Regions from separate parts of the Homo sapiens genome. Here region 1 is linked to region 2. Evidence: fine-mapped expression QTL. A gene starts in region 2. The other region holds a variant in brackets. All regions are shown on one strand. Distances are between the middles of the regions. Region 1 overlaps COL16A1 (collagen type XVI alpha 1 chain). Region 2 holds the start of SNRNP40 (small nuclear ribonucleoprotein U5 subunit 40).

What was found. PIP is the estimated chance that this variant, and not a neighbour inherited with it, causes the effect.
Region 1: its variant is fine-mapped to the expression of SNRNP40 in monocytes after interferon gamma (Fairfax 2014, PIP 0.95).

What each region holds. Positions count from the first base shown.
Region 1 is chr1:31,679,336-31,691,065 of GRCh38, forward strand. It overlaps COL16A1 (collagen type XVI alpha 1 chain), which reads right to left. Exons shown (of 71, transcript NM_001856.4): 21 at 11,194-11,238; 22 at 11,032-11,058; 23 at 10,406-10,516; 24 at 9,715-9,750; 25 at 9,526-9,636; 26 at 9,132-9,167; 27 at 6,909-6,944; 28 at 6,756-6,800; 29 at 6,304-6,435; 30 at 5,486-5,521; 31 at 5,188-5,295; 32 at 4,774-4,896; 33 at 4,615-4,668; 34 at 4,372-4,413; 8 more. Among named protein-coding and RNA genes, the nearest start is that of COL16A1, 19 kb to the right of the region's middle. RefSeq lists enhancers at 628-1,827, 2,103-2,975. The variant CA/C (reference allele first, on the strand shown) is at 8,046.
Region 2 is chr1:31,289,961-31,301,690 of GRCh38, forward strand. SNRNP40 (small nuclear ribonucleoprotein U5 subunit 40) reads right to left here and starts at 6,828. Exons shown (of 10, transcript NM_004814.3): 1 at 6,651-6,828; 2 at 3,259-3,388; 3 at 1,953-2,046. The coding sequence starts at 6,791. ZCCHC17 (zinc finger CCHC-type containing 17) reads left to right here and starts at 7,072. Exons shown (of 8, transcript NM_016505.4): 1 at 7,072-7,115. RefSeq lists an enhancer at 6,597-6,806.

The DNA.
Region 1 (11,730 bases), 390 kb after region 2:
AACAGTGGGCCGGGCTCTGTACCAGGGTAAGGGATTTTTATCTGACCCAGATTGTGGGTGCCTGACAGCTGACGCAACAGTGCATTGCTTGAAACAGTGCTGGGAGTGCAGAGCCTGGCCTAGAGGCTCAGTGGGCCCTCCTTGCCACCCTGGGAGGCAGGTAAACAGAGGAGTGAGAAATGGCATGTCTGTGTTTTTGGGGTGGGGGAGCAGCATCCTTGGGGTCCAGCCGGGAGCAGCCATCCTGACCCATGAGCTCTGCCACCCAAGCTCCTCATTCTCTTCTCCCCCTTTACCTGCAGCCCAGGTACTCCAGGGGGGCCTGGTGGTCCGGGAATACCTGGTGGACCCTGAGGGAGAGAGAAAAGAGTCAGAGCCAGCAGAGAGCTCTGCCCCATGGCCGAGAGCAGCTGTTTAGGGTGGACAAGCCGCGGGGCGCTGGCGGACAAGAGGAGACAAGCGACACACCTGCGGGCCCGGCTGCCAGGAGCTGCCCATCCAAAGTCCCGGAGCACCCTGGGTGGGAGTGGGGGTCGCAAAAGAAGGGGAGAGGTTATAGGCAACGTCTACACCAAGCGCGGGGCTGCGTGGGGAGGCGGCTGGCTGGGGTGCGTGGCCCTGCGGGGCCTTTGCACACTGGGCACCAGACGAGGCTGAAGCTGGTCCTCTCCCCCAGTTGGGGGAAGGCTCTCACAGCGCCACTTACCGGCATGCCAGAGAAGATGAGGTCTCCTTGAGAGGGGCAGGAGCACTCCCCTGGCTCACCCTGAAAATACAAGAGCCTTTGTGAGACATGGATGAAGACGAAGGGCTCTCTTGAAATGGACATCCGAGAGGCACGTGGGCTCTAGAGATGGAGAGGCCAGGGTTTCAATCCAGGATCTGCCTCTTCTAATGTGCCCTTAGGCAACCTGTTCAAACTCTCTGCACCTCAGCCTCCTCGCCTGTAAAATGGGAACAATAATTCCAAGCGCATGGAGTCTCAGGAGGACAAAATGGATTCGTGTATGCAGGGGTCCTGTCGCATGGTGATTATTCAGCAAACGATGGTCCTGCTGTTACAGTCGTCAGTTATAACCTTCTCTGCTGCCACGCAGGTAATCTCGCTTTCAGTACAACTGCAGCCCCACTCCTCTGGGCCCAGCCTGGCTTCCATGCCCTTCGCTCGGGAGCCCCTCACCTCTCTGCCCTCTCACCACTAGTCCTTTCCAGCTCACTTCCTGCCCCATCCTCTGACTCAGCCCCCATTTGAAAATGCAGCTGCCCTCCTAAGGGGGCCTTGGAGTTTTCCAGTCTCCCATAATCCTGGTTGAGTCCCAGGCCAGCAACCAGGTGAAGCTGGGGATACGTGGAGCCCCTGAAACCAGAAAGCTGGGGGTAGCAAGGAGCCCAGGATGCCTCCTCCACCCCCATCCTCCAGTCCAAGGCAGCTTCATGTGCACAGGCTCCCCTGGTTCATGGTGGGAAGGCTGGAGGGGCTGCTAATCCCCCAGAGTACGGGTCACAGGTGGGAAGGCTGGAGGGGCTGCTAATCCCCTAGAATATGGGTCACAGGCCCTTGGAACTCACCTTCTCTCCTCGTGGTCCTTTTTCACCCTGCAGGGAAGAAACACAGGAAGGTGAGCAGATAGGGGTGCCGAGGCAGGGCCGGCCATGGCTTCCTGCTGCCCCAAGGCACTGTACTCACTGGTGTTCCTCTGAGTCCCGTCTGTCCTTGCTGCCCATCACGGCCCTGAAGAGAGAGAGCCCAGAGTCAGAGGGTGAGACTGGGCAGCGGCCAGCCATCTGGCCTGCTGCAGAAAAGGGGTGTAGGACAAACAGAAGCAGCGCCAGGTTCCCCTGGAGCCCAGGGCCGAGGGCCCACGTTCCAGAGGAGGAGACTGAGGTGCCGGACAAGGAAGAAGACTGGCATTTCCTGAGCACGTCTCAGTGCCAGCCACTGGGCCAAGTACCCGTCGGGGAACACTGAATGGAATCCGCTCTCCCAGCCCGGCAGGACGGTATTGTTCTGGTTTTCAGGTGTGGAAACTGAGCCCTGAAGAAACTTCATGACAGACCCAACAGCCAGCTGCAGCCAGGCGTGTGTAGCCTGAAGTCTCTGCTCTCTCCTCTCTCCCTTTAGTGCTTGATACACTTTCTCCCTATCACAAAAGTTACATCTGTTGACCTAACTGGGAGAAAGGGATTTCAGCCCCTCCAAGAAATTGGAGACTTTGAGAAGCTGTCACTTGCCTAGGGTCACGCCCCTAGCGAGTGTGGGGCTGAGGAAGGGAAGCCTGCTGGATGGAATTCAGCATGAGTAGAGGTCTGGAACGTTCTCCTGAAAAGGAAAGCAGTTTGGGCAACGGCATGGAGTCTGCTCAGGCCAGGAGAAGCCAGCCTGGCCACGCAGAGGCTCGTAGCTCTGTGCTCATAGCTCCTTCATGTGGGCTCCGCCACCTTCACACGTGGGACTTGAAGCCCCTGAGGACCTGGCCCACATCTCTCCTTTTGCCTGGGGCTCCCTGGGACAGGCAGGAACCCTGGCTGTCCAGCTCTGAGGGACAATAGAGACCGGCTGTGTGGGCTTGGGCGAGTCCCTGCCTGCTTTGGACGTTGGTGCACTCTCCTATCAGTGAATCCCAAACTGGAACTAGAATTTCTCCAGGGATCCGCAAAGACAGAAGAGGATACAGTTCACCTGGGCTATTTTTAACATTACCAAAAGCCCAAGACAAATTACGCATTTGCCCACCGCCTGGCATGGAACAGACTGGCTGAAAGGTAGCATGCCTTTGATTTTGGCTGCAATTAGATTATCTGGTAAAATTCTAGCGGGTTCATGTGGAGTAGAAGCTGACGACTATACAGGTCTTTGATGATTAAAAATGAGAAAATGCACTTATGATTACTTAATCCGTGCAATTTGTTCAATAGACATGTCTCTTAAAACGTGGGAGCCACTGGGTGAATAGTACAAAGGGAAGGTCTTTCCAATTATACTGGAAGTAGTTGCTGGTCTGGATCTGTGCCGTCTGATACAGTAGTCCATAGCCACATGGGGCTATTTAAATTTAAATTAATTAAAATTAAATGTCACTTAAAATTGAGTTCCTCAGTCACACTAGCCACATTTCAGGTGCACTCAACAGCCACCTGTGGTTGTGCAGAACACAGCGTTTCCATCCTCATAGACAGTTGTACTGGGCAGCACCGGTTCACATGTCCCTAATGACTGGGGATGGGCTTTGGTTTGAGTCAGACAGGCCTAGGTTGAAGTCCCTGGCTCTGCCTCCTCACCCTCTGGCCTTCAACTTCCTGATCTATGAAGTGAGTTCCCTTACAGGGCTGATGTGAGGATGACATGAATTTCTGTGTTTAGAGCTTAGCACAGGGCCTCAGCATGATCACTGCTCAAAAAATGGTGGTGATCATTATTGTATTATTCAAGCATTCCCCTAAAAGAGTGAGGTTTTCCTTGTCTGAGGCTGGGCTGAGGCCTCTCTCCTCCCATCCCCTGTGCTGCTGGGATGGGCAGGGTCAGCCCTGTGCCCTCTTCCCAGCAGAAACATCCTTGGTTCCAGCAACACCACCAGCATGGAGCACAGAGAAGACTTACCGGAGGCCCAGAGACACTGGCCCCAGGAGGTCCCACAGGTCCGGTGGCTCCTTTCACCCCTGGAGATCCCTGTGTAAGAGAAGGTACAAAGGTCTCAGGGGCAGAATTGGAAGCCAGCTACAACCCAGCAGGTAAGACACATCTCAACAGATCTTAGGCAGCCCTCTGATAGGCATCACTTGGCCCCCATGTCCCCTGTGCCTGCTTCTGGGACACTCTGGAATACTGCAGGCCCAATACCCATGGAGGCAGAGGCTCACCTGGGCACCCTTCTCTCCAGTGGGGCCAGGTGGTCCCCGAGGTCCCGGAAGTCCCTGCAGATGGAAGCACAGTTAGTTAACCCATATCCTAGAATGGCCCCCTCCCCTGCTATCCTCCTTCAGGACTCAGGCAGACGTACCTGAATGCCAGGCAAACCCGGGGCTCCAGGCTCCCCCTGCAAGTCAGAAAGGGCAGACTAGGGCACAGCAGCCACAGCCAACCTGCCCCACTGGCCCTGCCGCACCGGCAGACCTGGTCTGGGTGGGGTATCTGCCAGCCCAAATTCAGAAGAGCTCCCCAAGGAGACCCTGAGGGTCAGAGAGGCTGGGGTCAAAGGCAAGTCCCTGACAGAAGCAACAGCAGGCCAGGGCTGCGGCCTGATCCCTGGTCCCAGAACTAAGTCCTGTGCCTCTGGGGGCAGGCAGAGCCCTGAAGTTTGGGAGTGGATGGAAGTAGGTAGCTGGCTAATGGAAGTGCTGAGAGGACAGGCAAAGGCAGGGCTAGAGACTCACCTGGGGTCCCTGGACTCCCCTTCCTGGAGGCCCTGGCTCTCCCTGAAGAGGCAGAAGGACAGTCCCTGGCTCGAGGTTCCCCAGTCACCCTTTCCCCTTCTCCCCAGCCCCTTCTCCTCCAGCTTCTTCCTGCCCTGCACCCTGCCTCCATTTCCCACTCCAGGCCCACTGCCCCCATGGATCTCCCTATCCCACCCCTGCCCTCACGTAGCTACGGCCCAGGGCCCCAAGACTCACACATACCTGCACGCCCTTCAGTCCTGGGGGCCCTTGAACTCCTGGTAGACCGGGTTGGCCCTAAAAGGCATAAGGTGGCCCATGGAGTCCCCACAGGAGAAAGGGGGACAGGAGGGAGAGGAGGCAAAGCCCAGGCAGGGAAGGGCCGGAGGGCAGGCAACTCACGGGTTTACCAGGTCGGCCCACGCCTTCGGGGCCCTGCTCTCCTTTGGGGCCGGGCTGCCCAGGCCGTCCTGCCATGTCTGTCACTGTCCCCTGCAGGCTGGGGCAGGCAGTGCAGCCATCACCCTGGTCAGAGATGGGTACAGCCAGGAGCCCATGAGCCGGGGCTGGCACCCAGGCCAGGACGCCCTGCACCCCTCTGAACACTCTGCCCCTTGAATGCTCCCACGTCAGCCTGGGAAATCAAAACAGGCCCCTGACACTCCTAGCAGAGGAGAAGCCCCGAGGAGCCTCCGCTCAGTGACTCTGACAGCCGTTAAGGCCCCAGCTGGCCCTGCAGTCCTTCCCTCACTGGTGCGACACCTGATTTTTTTTATGCAACAAACTCCCCGACCCCAACCACCCCGCCTGACTAACCTTTTCTCCTTTTGGCCCCGCGGGGCCCTGAACTCCAGGCTCTCCTGACAGTCCTGGCCGCCCTGTGGTGCCCGGCGTTCCAGGGTCTCCAGGATTCCCAGCATCACCCTGTAAGGAGTGGGGTTCAAGGAAAGCAAGGATGGCCCAGCCGGGGGCAGGTTGCCCCCCTGGGACTCGCAGGCACTCACACTCCTTTGCCGGGGCTGAGGGTTGGGGGCTAGGGAGGGAGGAAAATGAGGCAAGGAGGGGATCTGAGATGATGCCATGCCCACCCCCGTGCCCACGGACGCCCTCTCACCTTCTGCCCCTTCAGTCCACGCTCTCCAGCCTTGCCCTGAGGAGAAAGCATTTCCAGCACCCGCTCACTCATACCAGCCACCCCAAAGTGCCCGGCACCACATCAGGCTGGGGCATACAACAGTAAACAAACAAACAAAATCTCTGCTTTCGTGCTAGTGAAGCAATCTTGCCCAGGTGCAGAGCAAAGATTTGTGCCAGACTCTTTGCCTGGGTGACATGAGCAAATTAGCTCATCTATCTCCGTACCTCAGTTTCTTCAGCTGTCAAATGGGGATGATAAAAATAGTATAGGCTTCTGCCCTGTAGGGATCCTGTGAGGTTAGACAAGCTAATATGTCGTGTGCAGCAGTGCCTGGCACATAGTGTCCACTGTGGTAGTGCTGGCCGTTACTGTGAAAGCAGTAACAGTGATAATAACCACAGTGGTAACTGCCATTTCCCCAGTGCCCATGGTGTACCACTAAGCACTTCACACACGCCATTACTAGGCTTTACTCTGTGCAGGAAACAGAGGTGGAGAGAAGGTGACTTGCTCAAGTCAAAGACTTAGTAAGAAGCAAAGCTAAGATTGGAACCCAGGTCTCTCTGCTCCTAGGATGGCGTGCTTTCTGCCCACTCTGCCATACTCTGTCCCAGGATAAAGGGCAGAGACCTGTGAGGGCCGCTCCTGCTGGAGACAGAGGCTCTGACCCCGCCACACCCTCCCCACTACCCCCAACTGCCCAGGGAGTCAAGAGACCCAGGCAGGACCCCTCCCCTCTCCTTAGCCCCGCCTGCATCCCCCGTCCAGAGGCCCCTGCCTATATCCCACCTCACCTGTTTTCCTGGCAAGCCAAAGCCTGGAGGCCCAGGTTCCCCCTTCTCTCCGGATGGGCCAGGCAAGGCCACCACACGGACATCCCCATCCTGAAGGTTGGACAGGGCTGGGCACGGCTCACAGGGCTCCCCCTGCCAAGCAAGGACATTGAGTTAGGGGGTCCCCCAGGCCCTAGTGCACTTGAGCGAGGTTTGGAATCTAGGGCTGGGGAATGTCACTGGGTCTGACACTGCACCTCTGCTGGGTGAGGGGTTATCTTGGGAAAGATGAAGGGAGAACAGGAAAGAAACAAAGGTGGAGCTGAGTCATCAGGGGTCTCCATGCCTTGCTAAGGAGTCAGACTCTGCCCGACAGACAGCAAGGAGCCCCAGAGGGTTCGAAGTCGAGCAAGACGAGTGTCTATCTAGGAAGCTCACCCAGGCTGCAGCACGGAGAATGTCCCCAGACTCACCTTCGCCCCTTTGATGCCTGCTGGCCCCACTGGTCCTGGTGGCCCCTGCATGTTAAGACGCTACAGGTAATGCCCAGCATCTGCCAGGGCCATGCCTATCAGCCCCTCCCACCTTGTCCTCTCCCAAGCTGTTGCCATCCAAAACATACTTACTGGACTGCCAGCTGGCCCTGCCTCCCCGAAGTTACCCTGAGAGAAAGCACAGAAACCATGATTAAAGAGGGGATGGAGTCTGGGTGCTAGAGCAATCCCAAACCCAAAACTGTAAAAGCAACCCCTTCAGATGTCCAGACTACCCTCTCATGTCCAGAGAGGAAGAGGGCTTTCTCCAAGGTCCCCAAGGGAGTCTGTAACCAGCCAGGGGCTAGAAGCCCTATTTCTGCCCCCAGCTTCACCTCATGGAATCCAGCCCACCCTCAGCCATGTCTCAGCACACAAAAATCACGAAGGCATTTTTCCAACAGCCTTTCATTGGACACCTTTACAGGCGGAGCACTGGGCTGAGGCACTGGGTAGACAGCAGTGAGCAGGACAAACAGCAATGCCTGTTGAGCTTGCACACGCAGAACTTTCTAAATCATCATTTTAAACAGTGGTGAGTACTATGAAGGAAATCAACAAGGTGATGAGACAGAGTAAGTGGAGGTGGTCAGAGAGGTGTTAACCCTGATTATTACCAGAAGAATGAGAATAAGGTCATCCAATGAAAGAATGGGGGAGGGTAGAGAGGAAAAACATTCTGGATGCTTCTAGTGGGAACCACAAGTACAAAATCTGACGGGTGGGAGTAGTCCGGACATATTCCATAATGGAAAGAAGATCCGCACGGCTAAAGCAGAGTAAACCCGAAGAGAAGGGGAAGAAGCGGATGAATTTGGGAAGGATGGGGGCTGGGGCATCCGGGGTCCTGTGAGATACAGTGGAGCTATGTTAGAAAGTAAGTCACAGAGGGACTCTAAGGAGGGAAATACTGATTCTTCTACAAAGCCACATTAAACTACCGGGTGAAGGCTGGGCACGATGGCTCACGCCTGTAATCCCAGCATTTTGGGAGGCCAAGGAGGGTAGATCGCTTGAGGTCAGGAATTTGAGACCAGCCTGGCCAACATGGCAAAACCCCGTCTCTACTAAAACTACAAAAATTAGCTGAGTGTGGTGGTGCACGCCTGTAATCCCAGCTAATTGGGAGGCTGAGGCAGGAGAATCACTTGAACCTGGGAGGTGGAGGTTGCAGTGAGCAGAGATCACACCACTGCACTCCAGCCTGGGCAACAGAGTGAGACTCAGTCT[CA/C]AAAAAAAAAAAAAAAAAACCAACAACGCACAGACACACACACACACACACACACGAAAAACTACCAGGTGAAAACCGGACTGCTGCAGGGCTACAGTGGCCACGGGCAGGCCAGAGGAGGTTCCACCATGCAGGAGAGAGGCCATGGGGACGCAGATTACTATGGCAGTGGTGGGCGTGGAGAGAAGTGGAGGGGGTGAGAGAGCCATCATGGGCAGAACTGTCAGGACTCGCTGGGGGGCTAGAGGGAGGGGGCAGCGTCAGGAGTGAAGGATCTGAGGACGACCGCAAGGCTGGGCTTTGAGGGGCTGGCTGTGAGCTGATGACTGAGATGGGGAAGCTGGGAAGAGGCGGCAGGTGGGGTGGGGGTGCAAAGGCCCCACATGTGATGTGACATGTGGGCTTCCCCTGTTAGGGTTGAGTCTGCACACATACTTCAGTGTTTCTCACACTTGAGCACTCGTACACCCACAGAATTTGGGTAACATTTGGGTAACACTGCATTAGAAGTTCAAGCCTGCCATTTGTCTCCAATGCAATCATAAATAGATACGTTAACACAGGCACTGAAATTGAGTGACCCACAGGCGTAGTGAAGATTACAGTCTCTGGAGCCAGGCTTCCTGGGCTCAATCCCAGCTCTGCATCCAATCACCTGGCAATTTACTTGGCCTTTGTGTGCCTCCGTTTCCTCATCTGTGAAATGGGAATAATGGAGCACATACCCCATAAACTCTGGGAGGACAAAACAAGTGAATATACTTACAAGATTTGGAATAGTGCCCGGCACATCATAAGCAATAAAGAAGTGTTACATATTATAAATATAATAAGGTAATCTTGAATGTGCTTAATAGTTTTAGAATATCATCACAGCTACACTAAGGAATTCTCTTACAGAACATGAGGGCTCTCAGAAATAAATTCTTTGACTCAAGTCTGCAAAACACTAGTAAATTAATTTCACTGTGAATTTACCGTCTGAATCTCTTGTTTATATTACCCTTATTCCCCGCCCGCACCACTCCTCCCCTGCCTGCCTGCCAAGAAACTCCAGTGTCCCTGACATCTAACCCAGGTCTCACCTTCTCTCCTTTCAGCCCTGGAACCCCAGCTCTACCCTGAAAAACAACCAAGACAGAGTCTCAGCATCTCCCCACTCCCACCTCTCCAAGGCTCCCCGGGTCCCAGTGTCCAACCAGAAACAGAACGGTAAGATAGGAATTATGTCCTTCAGGTAGCTGGACAGTTTCTTCAGTTAGACAACTGAAGCTAGAGGTGCTAAGAGGAAGTTCCAGGGCAAGGAGCCTGGGGCAGCACAGGGACGGAGGGAGGGACCAGGAGACAGGCCTGGGACACCTGCCTCTTCCCCTCCCTCCTGATCCCTGCCCTGAGACTTGGGATCTGAAAAGCCAGGGAGATCAACAGTATGGCAAGGATGGCTGAACTGGGCTGGGCTGGGAGAAAGTCGTCACTCACCGGAAGGCCAGGCAGACCAAAGCCAGGGGAACCCACATCTCCACTGGCCCCTGTGGAGGACACAAGATGCTGGGCCCCTACAACCGAGCTGCAGGACAAGCAGGGCTCCCCCTGGGGAAAGAAGAGGAAGGATCAGAAATGCTTCCAGGTAGGCAGAGGAGGGCAGCCAGGAGAGCAGGGTTCCCTCACCTTCTCTCCTTTGATGCCTTGGATGCCAGGGTCTCCCTGCAGGGTAAAAAGGTTTGTGGGCTGAGGCAGGGCACGATGGGGCACCCCCAAACTCCCTGGCAATATGCGAGGACAGCAATGTCACACACGCAAACCGTCCAAACACCTAGGGGTCCCATGGGGTCCAAGGCCAGCACCCCAGAGGCAGGGTTCATCAACCCACATAACAAGCAGGAGCGTGGCGGGGGGAATGACGCCAGGTTAAGCTAACCCAGTGGGAAGTTCCTGCATATACCCAATCACCTTTTTGTCTGACAGCTCCCAGGTGCTCCTGAAAGAGGGGGTCTGTGAGAGAGGGGGCTAACCCAGTCCTGCTCACTCCTTTCCTCCACCCCCAAAACATACCCAATCCTAGGACACAGCCTCACTCACAGTAAGGGTGGGCTCCAGCCCAGCTTGCCCAAAAGGCACCCTAGAGTCTCCTGGAAAGCCCTGGGAGGTTGCCATGGAGACCGGAGGTGGCACTCTAGCCCAGCCCTGAGTTCTATGGTTCAGACCCCTTACCACAGTAAGAGCCTAGACTCTCTGCCCATAATCTCTCTGTAGCCACGAGAAGTACCCAGCCCCTCTGCCCAATTCCTCTCTATGATCATGTCCCCAGGTTTCTTTGTGTGTTGGGGGAGGTCCCTCAATGGTCACCCTGGGCACTCACCCTGGCTGGTACAGGATCACCAGGCTCCCCTTTGGGCCCTGGCTTTCCAGGAAGTCCAACAAAGTTCTGGAACCCTTCAGGCAGTGTTGGGCACACTTCACAGGGGTCACCCTAGCAGAAGGGAGAGGCAGTATGTGGACAGGGTGGGGCTGAGACCCCAGGGAAGGCAAGGGGCCTCTTGCGCAGACCAGCCCTAGACATTGGGTCCACCAGAGCCCCACCCCCAACATCAAAGTGGACAGCAGGAATGCCGCTGGGGCTTCCTGTTCAACTGACTCATTCATTCACCACAAGATTCCAGGGTGGCGCAAAACTACATCCTCGCCGTAAGCCTTAAAACATGACTGTGCCCCACTGACAGACATGGAAACTTGGGCTAAGAGAGAAGCTAATTGATCTGGCACATTCATAACCATGTGTGTGGTGGAGGCAGAGTTTGAACCCAGCTCACCCCTAAGCCAGGTTCTTTATGTACTCACTGCACATGGACATCAGAGGAAGAACGGGTGGGGGTCCCCTGAGGAAGGTCCAGCACCCCTAGGCCTAGGGCCCTTGATGCTCACTGTCATGTGCAGAAAGGGGGTCCCGTTCCCACCCCGATCTGGGCAGCCAGGCCTAGGACTCACCTTCTCTCCCTTCACACCTGGCTTCCCCTGTTAGAAAAGAGGCAATGGGCATCAGTGCCAGGGCAGAGGGCTGGTGTGCCAACTGAGGGCCGGAGGACCTAGCCCCTCCCTCCAGAGGCCTTGGAAGAGCCGACCCTCCCCCGCTGGATTGGTGTCACTCACAGGTTTCCCACCAGGGCCTTCCTTTCCTGGGATCCCCGAGCTGCCCTGTGGTCAGAAGAAAGGATAAGCGGGGAGCCTTCTGGCCAATGCAATCTCGGTGCGTTCCCCCTTCCCCACCCGTGCCCCTCTGTGATGGCAGAACAATCGTTGCCAAATCTCTTGTTGCCATTTGTTCCATTCGGTCGGTTCCTGTTGCCTGCCCTCCGTGTCTAACCCAAGCCATTCTAGGTTTCAAAGGAAGGGAGAAAATGAAGCTTCTGTGTGCCCCTTCACTGGTGCACAGGTTAAGAGGTGATCCGCGTGACCCCAGCAGTCACAGACAGAAATTTCCAGAGCTTTCTGCACATCCAGGCACAAGGCTCTAAAATGAGCTTGGGCCCTCCAGCAAAGTCCACTTTGATCTTTACAACACTTAGGTCTGCCCATCCCTATACCTGGAACACAGGCGGAGGTTGCAGTGAGCAGCTCAGTGAGCACTGGGATGGGGACAGGACGCTCCCCGCCAAGGGGCCTGGCCAAGCCGAGCCCAGCCTCCTC
Region 2 (11,730 bases):
GTGATCCTCCCACCTCAGCCTCCTGAGTAGCTGGGACCACAGGTCTGTGCCACCATGCTCAGTTAATTTTTAAAAATCATTTGTAGAGGCAAGGTCTCACTATGTTGCCCAGGCTGGTCTTGAACTGGGCTCAAGCAATCTTCCTGCCTCAGCCTCCTACAGTGCTAGGGTTATAGGCGTAAGCAACCACGCCCAGCCTCTGAGGATGATTTCTAAGTTATAACTGATCTTATAATGCTTTCTTTTTTCATTTTTTTTGAGATGGAGTCTCACTGTGTTGCCCAGGCTGGTTTTGAACTCTTGGGCTCCAGGAATCCTCCTGCCTCAGCCTCCCAAATAGCTGGGATTATAAGCACATGCCACCAGGCCCAGCTTTCTAATGCTTTATTTAAAATGTATACAATGCTATGTATCAATTGATGGAGCACCCTAAGATTTTAGAGGTCAGAAATGTAAAACAATGAATGTTTACCAGACTACCTAACAATGTAATTACTTTTGTATAGCCAGATTTCTATATTATCTATAATATATTCTAAAATAATATAGTCATTAAAATGACGTTTATGACATCAGATGTTGGCTGAGCAATGTTAAGAGAAAAAAGGAGCAAATAAGATTGTACACACAGTTCTGGCCAGGTGCGGTGGCTCACACTTGTAATCCCAGCATTTTGGGAGGCCAAGGCGGGCGGATCACAAGGTCAGGAGATCGAGACCATCCTGGCTAACACGGTGAAACCCCATCTCTATTAAAAATACAAAAAAATTAGCCGGGCATGGTGGCGGGCACCTGTAATCCCAGCTACTCAGGAGGCTGAGGCAGGAGAATGGTGTGAACCCCGGAGACGGAGCTTGCAGTGAGCCGAGATCGCACCACTGCACTCCAGACTGGGCGACAGAGCAAGACTCCGTCTCAAAAAAATAAAATAAAATAAATAAATAAATAAAAAAGATTGTACACATAGTTCTAACAAATATGCAACAACTAAACAGTTCTGAGTAGAAAAAAAGGCATTAGAAAAATGTATAAAATTAACAGTGATTGGCCAGGCACGGTGGCTCATGCCTGTAATCCCAGCACTTTGGGAGGCTGAGGTGGGCGGATCACCTGCGGTTGGGAGTTCAAGACCAGCCTGACCAACATGGAGAAACCCAGTCTCTACAAAAAATACAAAATTAGCCAGGCACGGTGATGCATCCCTGTAATCCCAGCTATTCTGGAGGCTGAGGCAAGAGAAACACGTGAACCTGGGAGGCGGAGGTTGCAGTGAGCCGAGATCGTGCCATTGCACTCCAGCCTGGGCAACAAGAGTGAAATTCCGTCTCAAAAAAAAAAAATTAACACTGATTATCTTTGGAGTGGTAGAAATATAGACTATTTTTTCATCTTTCTGCTTTTTTTGGTTTCTCAAAAGAAATGATTTTTATAATAGAAATAGCTGATTTCAGGCCAGGCATGGTGGTTAATTATTGTAATCACAGCATTTTTGGGAGGCTGAGGCAGGTGGACTGCTTGAGCTCAGGAGCAATATAGCAAGACCATGTCTCCACAAATGATTTTTAAAAATTAGCTGGGCATGGAGGCGTGGGCTTGTGGCCCCAGCTATTTGGGAGGCTGAAGTGGGAGGATCCCTCGAGCAAGAGGTTGAGGCTGCAGTGAGCCATGTTTGTGTCACTGCACTCCAGCCTACATATAAAAATCACATTTATTTTATGTCTTAAAAAAAGAAAAATTTGTCTGGGTTGTTGAAATGACCGATGTAACATCTTTATATTTGCATACACAGACTATAAACACCTCACTTGGGGTGACAGTGATAAATCGGATACTAAAGTAGCTACCCAAAATTAGTAGTTTTTGATAGCAGGGTCTCCTGAGAAAGGATGAAAGGTGAAAGGACGCCAAGAATTAGTATGAGAAGCTGTCCTTCCATTATGCAGAATACTCACCTGCCATCTGTGTTGTAATGCAATTCCATCACTGCTCCACTGTGTCCCTTCAGTGTGGCATAGTTATCACAGTCACCATAGACATTCCACAGTACTGTTAGGGAGATGGGTTCTGTGAGCATTACTAGGCAAAGGGTACTTATAAATTTATCAGAACAACAGTTCTCAGGTCAGGCACGGTGGCTCACACCTGTAATCCCAGCACTTTGGGAGGCCGAGACGGGTGGATCACTTGAGGTCAGGAGTTCGAGACCAGCGTGGCTGATACGGCGAAACCCCATCTTTAATAAAAATAAAAAAATCAGCCAGGTGTAGTGGCAGACGCCTACAATCCCAGCTCTTGGGAGACTGAGGCAGGAGAATCACTTGAACCCAGGAGACGGAGGATGCAGTGAGCCGAGATCGCGCCACGGCACTCCAACCTGGGTGACAGAGTGAGACTCCGTCTCTAAAAAGCCAACCGACCAACCAAACAAAAAAAACTATGTAGTTTGTCTGATGAAATTAAGCCTATCAATAATTCATATATGTTCTGCAAAGATCCCTAAGCAATCCAGACGTTTGGCCACTAGTAAGCTTAAGGATCATAGAGCCGGAACATCCAAATCAAAATGGGCAGTGAAGACGGGTATCATCCACCCGGCACCGAGGAAAAGAGTTAACAGAAAAGAGCCAAATAACTCATTTCATCTCATAATCTGGCAAGAAAGTAGCAACAGAAGCATCTGATTTTTTTTCCTTCTGGCTTCATTTGCTGGAGTATAAATAAAACGACTTTTTCTACTTACTTCTCAAAAATGGGTATGAGAAATTCTTATTTCTCAAAAATGGAAATCTGGTAGTAGATCCTAATGATGTACAGGTAGATTATTTAAGGGAGTTACCACTTTAGGATTCCTTCCTTCCCATATGCTAGCTAGGATTCTGGGTGTGAATTAAGAGGACCTTATACCTTTGGGAAAATAAAAGTTATTTCTCTCCTCATTACTGCCATTAACCTGTTATGTCTAGATTGCTAAGTGCCTTGGTAAATTAGCTGGAGATTTGCCTCTATGAGGAAGACATTCTCAAACCAGAACAACTCACTTTCCAACTAGTAAAATAATGGCTTCTGTATTTACCCCATGGACTCCAAGTTCTACACCCAAGATCATTCAGCATGTTCATGCCCCAATTTTAGCATATTAGCCATGCAGCCTGTTATGTTGCCAACATAGAGTGATACCTTCTGTGGCACCCAAGATTTAAAAAAAAAAATCACTATCTGGCAGGAAAAATTATTCCAGATTCAAAAACTATGCCTCACATATCAGTCGGTCAAATCCTGCAGATGCTAAGGTGGATCCGTTGGGGTGGAACTTGCAGCAGTAGACTTCCCCTTCATGTCCAGAGAGCAGCATGATTGGGGCTTGAAGGGAGGAACATCTTGGAGGTCCCTAAACAAAAGAGAAGCACAAGGTAACTACTGCATACAGACAAAGGAGGCTACAAAATTAGGGGGTGGGGAGTGGAGGGAAAAGACCAAGAAAACAATGATTAAGTGGGTTTCATCTGACTTACAGAATGGTAGCTCTTCTCATATGAATGCCTCCAACTTGACACTCTCTGAAACTTTCCATTATCTACCTGTTATAATGACTCTCTTGTTCACTCTCTCAGCTCTTGTTGTACGACCAACTTTTTTTTGGAGATAGGGTCTCACTCTGTCACCTAGGCTGGACTGCAGTAGTGTGATCATGGTTCACTGCAGCTTCAAACTCCTTGGCTCAAGTGATCCTCCTGCCTCAGCCTCCTGAGTAGCCAGGACTACAGGCATGAACTAGCATGCCATGCTAATTTTTTTAGTTTTTGTGGAGATGAGGTCTTGCTACGTTGCCTAGGCTGGTCTCAAAATCCTGGCCTCCCTCCTTGGCCTCCCAAAGCACTAAGATTATAGGAATGAGCCACCACATTTGGCCTGGCTCATTTAACAAATGATGGAACTGACTTTCCCAACAACTCTGCTTGGTATGGAGTACTGGGTGAAATAGTTTTGTTTTATTTTTAATTTTTTTTGTGTGTTTTGAGACAGAGTTTTGCTCTGTCACCCAGGCTGGAGTGCAGTGGTGTGATCTCGGCTCACTGCAACCTATGCTTTCTGGGTTCAAGGGATCTGGTGCCTCAGCCTCCCGAGCAGCCAAGATTACAGGCATGCACAACCACGCCCGGCTAATTTTTGTATTTTTAGTAGAGATGGGGTTTCACCATGTTGGCCAGGCTGGTCTCAAACTCCTGGCCTCATGTGATCTGCCTGCCTTGGCCTCCCAGAGTGCTGGGATTATAGGCATGAGCCACTGCACCTGGCCTATTTTTATTTCTTATTTTTTCATAGCAAACGGATCCTCAGCATGGGTGAAGTAGTTTTGATTATGGTCTTGGACACCAAGATGACACTTGGGCAATTCATCTAAACATGGGCTGATATGCTCACTTGTCAAATGGGAGAAGTATACTACCCATAATCCCCAAATCTCTTCAGTACTTCCCAGCATTTTCATATTTATTTATTTATTTATTTATTTTTTGGGGAAGGAGTCTTGCTCTGTTGCCCAGGCTGGAGTACAATGGCGTGATCTCGTCTCATCGCAAACTCCGCCTCCTGGGTTCAAGCGATTCTCCTGCATCAGCCTCCCGAGTGGCTGGGATTACAGGCACCCACCACCAAGCCCGGCCAGATTCATTTAGTTTTAAAAAATGTTATGTGCAGGCTGGGCGCGGTGGCTCACACCTGTAATCCCAGCACTTTGGGAGGCTGAGGTGGGCGGATCACTTGAGGTCAAAAGTTTGAGACCAGCCTGACCAACATGGTGAAACTCCGTCTCTACTAAAAATATACAAAAATTAGCCAGGCATGGTGGCGGGCGCCTGTAATTCCAGCCACTCAGGAGGCTGAGGCAGGAGAATCGCTTGAACCCGGGTGGCGGAGGTTGCGGTGCACCGAGATTGCGCCACTCCACTCCAGCCTGGGTGACAAGAGCAAAATTCCATCTTAAAAAAAAAAAAAAGAAGTTACGTGCTAGGCACTGGGCAAACAGCAATGAACAAAATAAACAATGGAGCTCGCTGTTCCAGTGGGAAAGGGGGAAGGGAGAAGGGAAGGTGAGAGAAAACAAGCAAACTATATATGTGGTGTCATGTGCTATAGAGCAAAAGAAGGGATGGGGATGGTGGCTCATGCCTGTAATCTCAGCATTTTGGGAGGCCAAGGTGTGCGGATTGCTTGAGCTCAGGAGTGAAATCCTGTCTCTACAAAAAAATACAATTAGTTAGATGTGGTGGTGTGTGTCTGTGGTCCCAGCTACTCAGGAGGCTGAGGCAGGAGGATCACTTGAGCCCAGGTGGTGGAGGCTGTACTGAGCCAGTGGTCAACACAGAGAGATTGTCTAAAAACAAAAAAACAAAAAAAGAGAGAGAGAGAAGCAATGTGGGTTCCACAGTATGTGGTACTGCAATTTAAAATAGGGTGGTCAGGAAAATCCTCACTGAAAAAATTACATTTGGGCAAATATTCGCAGGAGCTGAATAGTAAACCATGTAAACATTTGTGAAGAGCAATCCCACAGAGAGGACAGCAAATGCAAAGGTCCTGAAGCAGAGGCTTGGAAGAGAGAGTAACTGAAGCCAGGTGAGCAATAAGAAATTGGTCAGAGAGGTAAAGGGAAAGAGGGCAAATAATTACAAGAATTTTGGTTTTTACTCTGGATGAAGTACAAAGCCACCAGAAAGTTTTCTGCAGAGTGTAATGTGATCTGATGTTTAGAAGGATTCCTTTGGTTATTGGCTTGGTAACAGGTGCTGATACAAAGGTAGAAAGTGGAAGACCAGTTAGGGTCCCACTACAAAAATGCCAGATGAGATAATAATGGCTTAGGCCATGAGGCAATGATGGAGATGGTAGAAGTAGCAATTCTAGACCTATTTTGAGGACGGTGCCAGCAGGATTTATTGAGGAGATGTGAGGACACTCGTATTTCCTCGTCTGAGCCTAAACAGGACATTAGAAGTGTGATCACTATTTCTATCTTACAAAAAATGTAGTTAGGAGCATGGTTTCTCAGTTCGAAATCTGCTTCTATCACGTACTTGGTAAGTCTGTTTTTCCATCTGCAAAATGGGTTAATAACGTTCCTAACAGGCTGCTACCAAGATCAATGGAAATTTCATATACGAAACACTTTAGTACAAGAGTCAATGAATGTTAGCTGCTATTTAGTTGTTAATAATACTAGTGCAGAGAAATAAAGGGAAAAGCAACTTGCCCAAAGTCCCAAAACGAGCCAACACAAATCATTTCCCTTTTTTCTTCCCTCCCTCATTCATTCATTCTACACACTCTTCGGAATTTTTGTTCTATGCCAGATCCATGTTAGAGTCAGGATGCTTAAACCCGGGTCAGGGTTTTGAGCCCAAGGTCCTCAACTCTAATTCTAATGCTATCTCAGGGCAGTCGAGAGGCTGAAAACGGGCGCCAAACGGGGGAACACGTACGCAGCATTCGCAGGCTATGGGGAGCTTTTACAGTGTTTATGTGCTTTAACTCTGCGTAGAAACTCTCGTTCTGCCCCCGCAATGCGGGAAAGGGTCAGGGATCACCAGATACAGCGCTCTGAGGGGAGGAAGATGAGCTGAGGGCCAAAGGCCGCCTGCTTCTTCACTTACCGCTTGCAGCAAGGCTCCCGGCGTCGCCTGCTGCTGCCCGGCTCCTGGGCCAGACCCCGCTCCCAACAGCAACTCATGCCGCTGCCGCTTGACTGGAACCAGCGGCAACTCTGGGCCCTTACGCTTCTGCTGTTCTATCATGGCGGCAACCGGTCTCTTCAGCGCCGCCACTGACCGCGCTGCCGCTCTCAGGCGCCACGCAATTGGTTCCAAATTAGTCCTTCCTCCACAACTTCCAGCTTGGAAGAACCAATCGGCTTTCAATATTTCCATTTGCACCGCCCTCGGATAGTCTCTTGTTATTGGGCATATCTTTCTGACGTCATGAGAGTGCGATACCAGGATTGGTGGACGGAGCTGGCGACCGCCCTAGGCGCGCTGGGTCTTGTGGGTGGAAACGCGCTGGCTGACTGGGGTCGGCGTTTAGTTCAGCGCAGCGACTCGGGGACCTGGAGCTGACGCCTAGTACGTATGAGGAAGAACGGGGTGGGTGGCTGCCTGAGTCTGGAGGCGACGCCTCGGTTGTGCAGTCTGAACCTGCCCTTCTCAGCTGAGGGTGCTGACAGCAAGGGGTGGGAGGCGGGCCCCGAGTCCCCAGCTGTGGTAAGTAGTAGCCTGGGCTCCCTTTCGGGGCAGGAGCGGAGCCTTGGGGTCTCTGGCGGCAAGACCCAGCCCCTGCGGCTCCCTTCTTCAAGAGCGCCCATCGTGGCCAGTCCTGTGCCGGGCATTCCCAGGGAGAAAGGCCTGCGTCCCAGCCTCCTCCGGTGCCCCATTTGGCCGAGGAGGCTGACTTGTTTCTGCCACTGATTTTGCAGTTTTTGATCAGGGCCTACTGTATGCCCCCCTGAGAGAGACAGTGATGAAGGAAATGTCCGACTCCTTCTCCAGAGCACAGTCTTGTTGAGAAATTTGAGACTCATGCCCATGAACGTGGTCATTGCCTCAGTCGTCCTGCTGATATTCATTTAGCAGCGCGTTGGGGGTATGTTGTGAACCGGGCACGGTCCCTACTCTCAGGGCGTTTAACTCTGGTGGGGAAAACGTTAAACAATGACCTCACTAATACATGGAAATGCCTCCTACTGCTGCCTGATGCTATGAGTGCCTGAAATAAGCAGGAAGGTTTTTCAGAGGAAAAGATGCCTGCGCTGGTAGCTGCAGGAAGTGTTGTAATTAATTAGGTGAAGAAGTGAAGGCAGAACCTTCCATAGAGAACTACTTGTTCAGAGCCCTGAGGCACTTGGGAGGAAAATGACTAAAAGCACAAAGAGCCAGTGTGGCTGGTACAAAGAGAATGAAGGGAGTATGGTACAAGATGAAGCTGTACGTGATAGCGGTCAGACCTTGCAGGAATTTGTAGCTTTTATTTTAAAACGGATGAGATACCACTGAGCCGTCTTCCCCCAGTGGGGTGTGGTGGAGGAGGGGACTTGATCCCTCAGGCTCAGTGGTGTGAACAGACGGGGGTTGGGGAAGCCCTAGTCGATGTATGTGGACCACTTGGGATATGCAGTAATCCTGGTCAGAGATGTCAGTGAGGACTGAGATATGGGTGGAACTGCAGAGAATTGGACAGATTCTAGAGGTATATAGGAGGTAAAATGGGTGGGACTTGGTGATGGGTTGATTTTAGGGAGTGAAGAGAGGAATCAAAGGTAACTCCTAGGTTTCTGGCTTATGTAGTTGAATAGATGGTGGTACCATTCACTCACTATCACGGAATCCCTCAAGCTGGATAGGGAACACTAGAAGATGATTAGAGACCAGTTTTTTTTTGTTTTTTTTTTTTTTTTGAGACAGGTTCTTGCTCTGTCGCCCAGGCTGGAGTGTGGTGGTGCAACCTTGGCTCACTGCAACCTCCACCTCCCAGGTTCAAGCAATTCTCCTGCCTTAGCCTCCCCAGTAGCTGGGATTACAGGCGCCTCCACTGTGCCCGGCCAATTTTTGTATTTTTGGTGGAGATGGGGTTCCACCATATTGGCCAGGCTGGTCTCCAACTCCTGGCCTCAAGTGATCCACCTGCCTCAGCCTCCCAAAATTCTGGGATTACAGGCCTGAGCCACTGCTCCCAGCTGAGATCAGTTTTTATTGATTGATTGATTGATTGTGTGGGGTCATTCATGACATCCAAGAGGCAGTTTGAAATACAGCTTTGTGCTCAGAAGAGAGATTTGTGTTGGGAATATAAAATTGGGCATAATTTGTATATACATGAATTGAGCCATAGGTGTGGGTAAGGTCAGCTAAGTCAGAACCTTGACTAGTTCCAACATTTAATGGTGAAGAACAGGTGAACCTACAGGAGATACAGAAGAAAGGAAGGAGGACTGGAAGAATGTCTCAGAAGCAAAAGAATGATTTGTGATAGAAATTTCTAGAATTTAAATAACATGAAGATTGAAAAACATATTTTGGCTTTTATCATCATGGAGGTCACAGTAACCTTAGCAAGAGTTATTTTGTTGGTGTGATTGGGCCAAAAGCCAGATATGAGGCAAGGATTTGGACAAGAAAATGTAGGTAGTGAACCTACACAGTATTTTTCATAGATCTGATTGTAAAGAGGAGGAGAGGATGTGCTAACCGATGGGGATAAGGGATTATCCAGGATCCAGTTGAGGATCCAGTTTTGAGAAATTTGAGAATATTGTAGAAGATTTGAAAGTCACTGTGGAGTGTGGGAGAATGAGGTTACTAGAGAAATGTAGGATGCAAGGAAAAAAAAAATTTTTTTCCAGCATATCCAGCGGTTTAGTGCATGCATGGAGAAAACCTTTCTGGGTATGGCAAGGACATCGCTTGCTCAAGACACATTCTAACCTCTAATATGTCTTCTCTTCCTGAAAAATCTGGAAAACTAAAAACCATTTTCTTGACTCCCTTGCACCTAAGGTGAAAATTGAATTTGGAACTGAGTTAAATGTGGAAAGAAGGAGGGTGTGAGTCATCCAGTTTTGCTGCCAGTCATGGCAGTAAATTTCTCCAGTCAATAGCTCCCTGGTTTGGTGGCTTGCTGCAGTGATAGCCATAACTTTCCTGGATTGTGGCAAAGGTGGTATTATTTTGTGGGTTAGGTGTTGTTCCTGGAAGTTCTGCCAAAGTCTTTTATTGCAATACATCCCTTACTGCTTAAGTGGGTTCTGTTGTCTGCAACTGTCCCTGACCAGGTTAGAGGTACTGCCAGAGAGTTAAATATAAAGACAGAGTTAAAGGGAGTTTAGGGTGTTGTTGGAATGATGGGCTATGGAATCTAAGCTGGATTGGAAGAAAACTGAAGAAAAAGGGGAGGGCTGATAGATTGGAAGAAAATAGAGGCCAATAAATCAGGGTTCTAATGAGGTCAAAGAACAGTATTCTCTGCTAGAGGATTTCTGTTTATCCTAAAAGGCTTATTCAGTTATCTGTTTAACTTCTCTACTTCCCCCAGACCCTCTTTCTCTTCCTAGCTACTACTTTTGTTTGTTTGTTTTGAGACAGTCTTACTCTGTTGCCCAGGCCGATTGCAGTGGCATGATTATGGCTCACTGTAGCCTCGACCTCCCAGGCTCCAGTGATCCTCCCACCTCAGCCTCTCCAGTAGGTGGGATAACAGGTATGTGCCACCATGCCTGGCTAATTGTTGTATTTTTTATAGAGATAAGGTCTTGCCATGTTGTCCAGGCTGGTCTCAAACTCCTGGCCTCAAGTGATCTTGCTGCCTTGGTCTCCCAAAGTGCTACGATTATAGGCATAAGCCACCATGCCTGGCCCCCAAGCTTCTGCTTTAGCACTTATCACATTGCAGTGTAATTGGTGTTATTTTGTGGGTTAGGTGTTGTTCCTGGAAGTTCCGCCAAAGTCTGTTATTGCAATACATCCCTTTCTGCTTAAGTGGGTTCTGTTGTCTGCAACTGTCCCGGGCTAGGTTAGACATACTGCCAGATAGTTAAATATAAAGACAGAGTTAAAGGGAGTTTAGAGTGTTGTTGGAATGATGATATCTGATATCCCTATCAGATTAGGAGGTCTTTGAGAACAGGGACTGTGTTGAAAAGGGTGGTTTAGGCCGGGTGCTGTGGCTCACTCCTATAATCCCAGCACTTTGGGAGGCCGAGGCAGGTGGATCACCTGAGGTCAGGAGTTCGAGACCATCCTGACCAATATGGTGAAACCCTGTCTCTACTAAAAATATAAAAATCAGCTGGGCATGGTGGTGTGTGCCTGTAATCCCAGCTACTCGGGAGGCTGAGGCAGGAGAATCGCTTGAACCTGGGAGGAGGTTGCAGTGAGCTAAGATCGCGCCATTGCACTCTAGCCTGGGTGACAAGAACAAAACTCTGTCTCAAAAAAAAAAAAAGAAAAAAAAGGGTGGTTTAGTGGCAAGTGTGTGTGGCCCTTGGAATGGCCTAAGATTTGTCTCTTTCTTGCTGTGTTGTTTTGGACAAGTTATTTCATTCCTGTAAAATAGGATTACTTGCTTTGTAGAGGAGTTTTAGGGATTGAAAGCAGGTTTATAAAGTACCTTATATATAAACATCAATCAATAGCATACTGAATTGATGAATTAACAATTTAAATGGGGTAAAATTAAATACTTCACTATTTTAGTAGACAATTTCCATGTGTGTTACACTGTGCTAGGCACTGGAGATTTGGGGAGGAAGGATATGATGATGTGCAAGACAAAGGCATGCTTACAAGAGTTCCACACTCTACAAAGGGAGGAAAAAAATGTCCCTAAAAATGATTTGAATCCCATCCCCATCATTCATATTTTGCAATCTTGAGCGAGTTTACTTAGCTTCTCTTGTGTCCTCATTTTTAAAATGGCAATGATAATTGCCTGTTTTATGGGATAGTCAAGAAGAGAATTATTGAATGTCATGAAGATAAAATTTTAAAAAGAAAAATTAGTTAAGAGAAGTAAAGCTCTTAGATTAATACATGGCAGATATGAAGCACTCAAATATTAGCTATTATAAGACTTTGAAGGGATCTTAGGAATAATTGACTGAAAGTGTAGTGTCGAGTGGTAGAATAAGTGCTGATCCTGGGGTCTTATACCAATGTTGCTAACTGTGAGCAGCCTTTGTCAAATCAC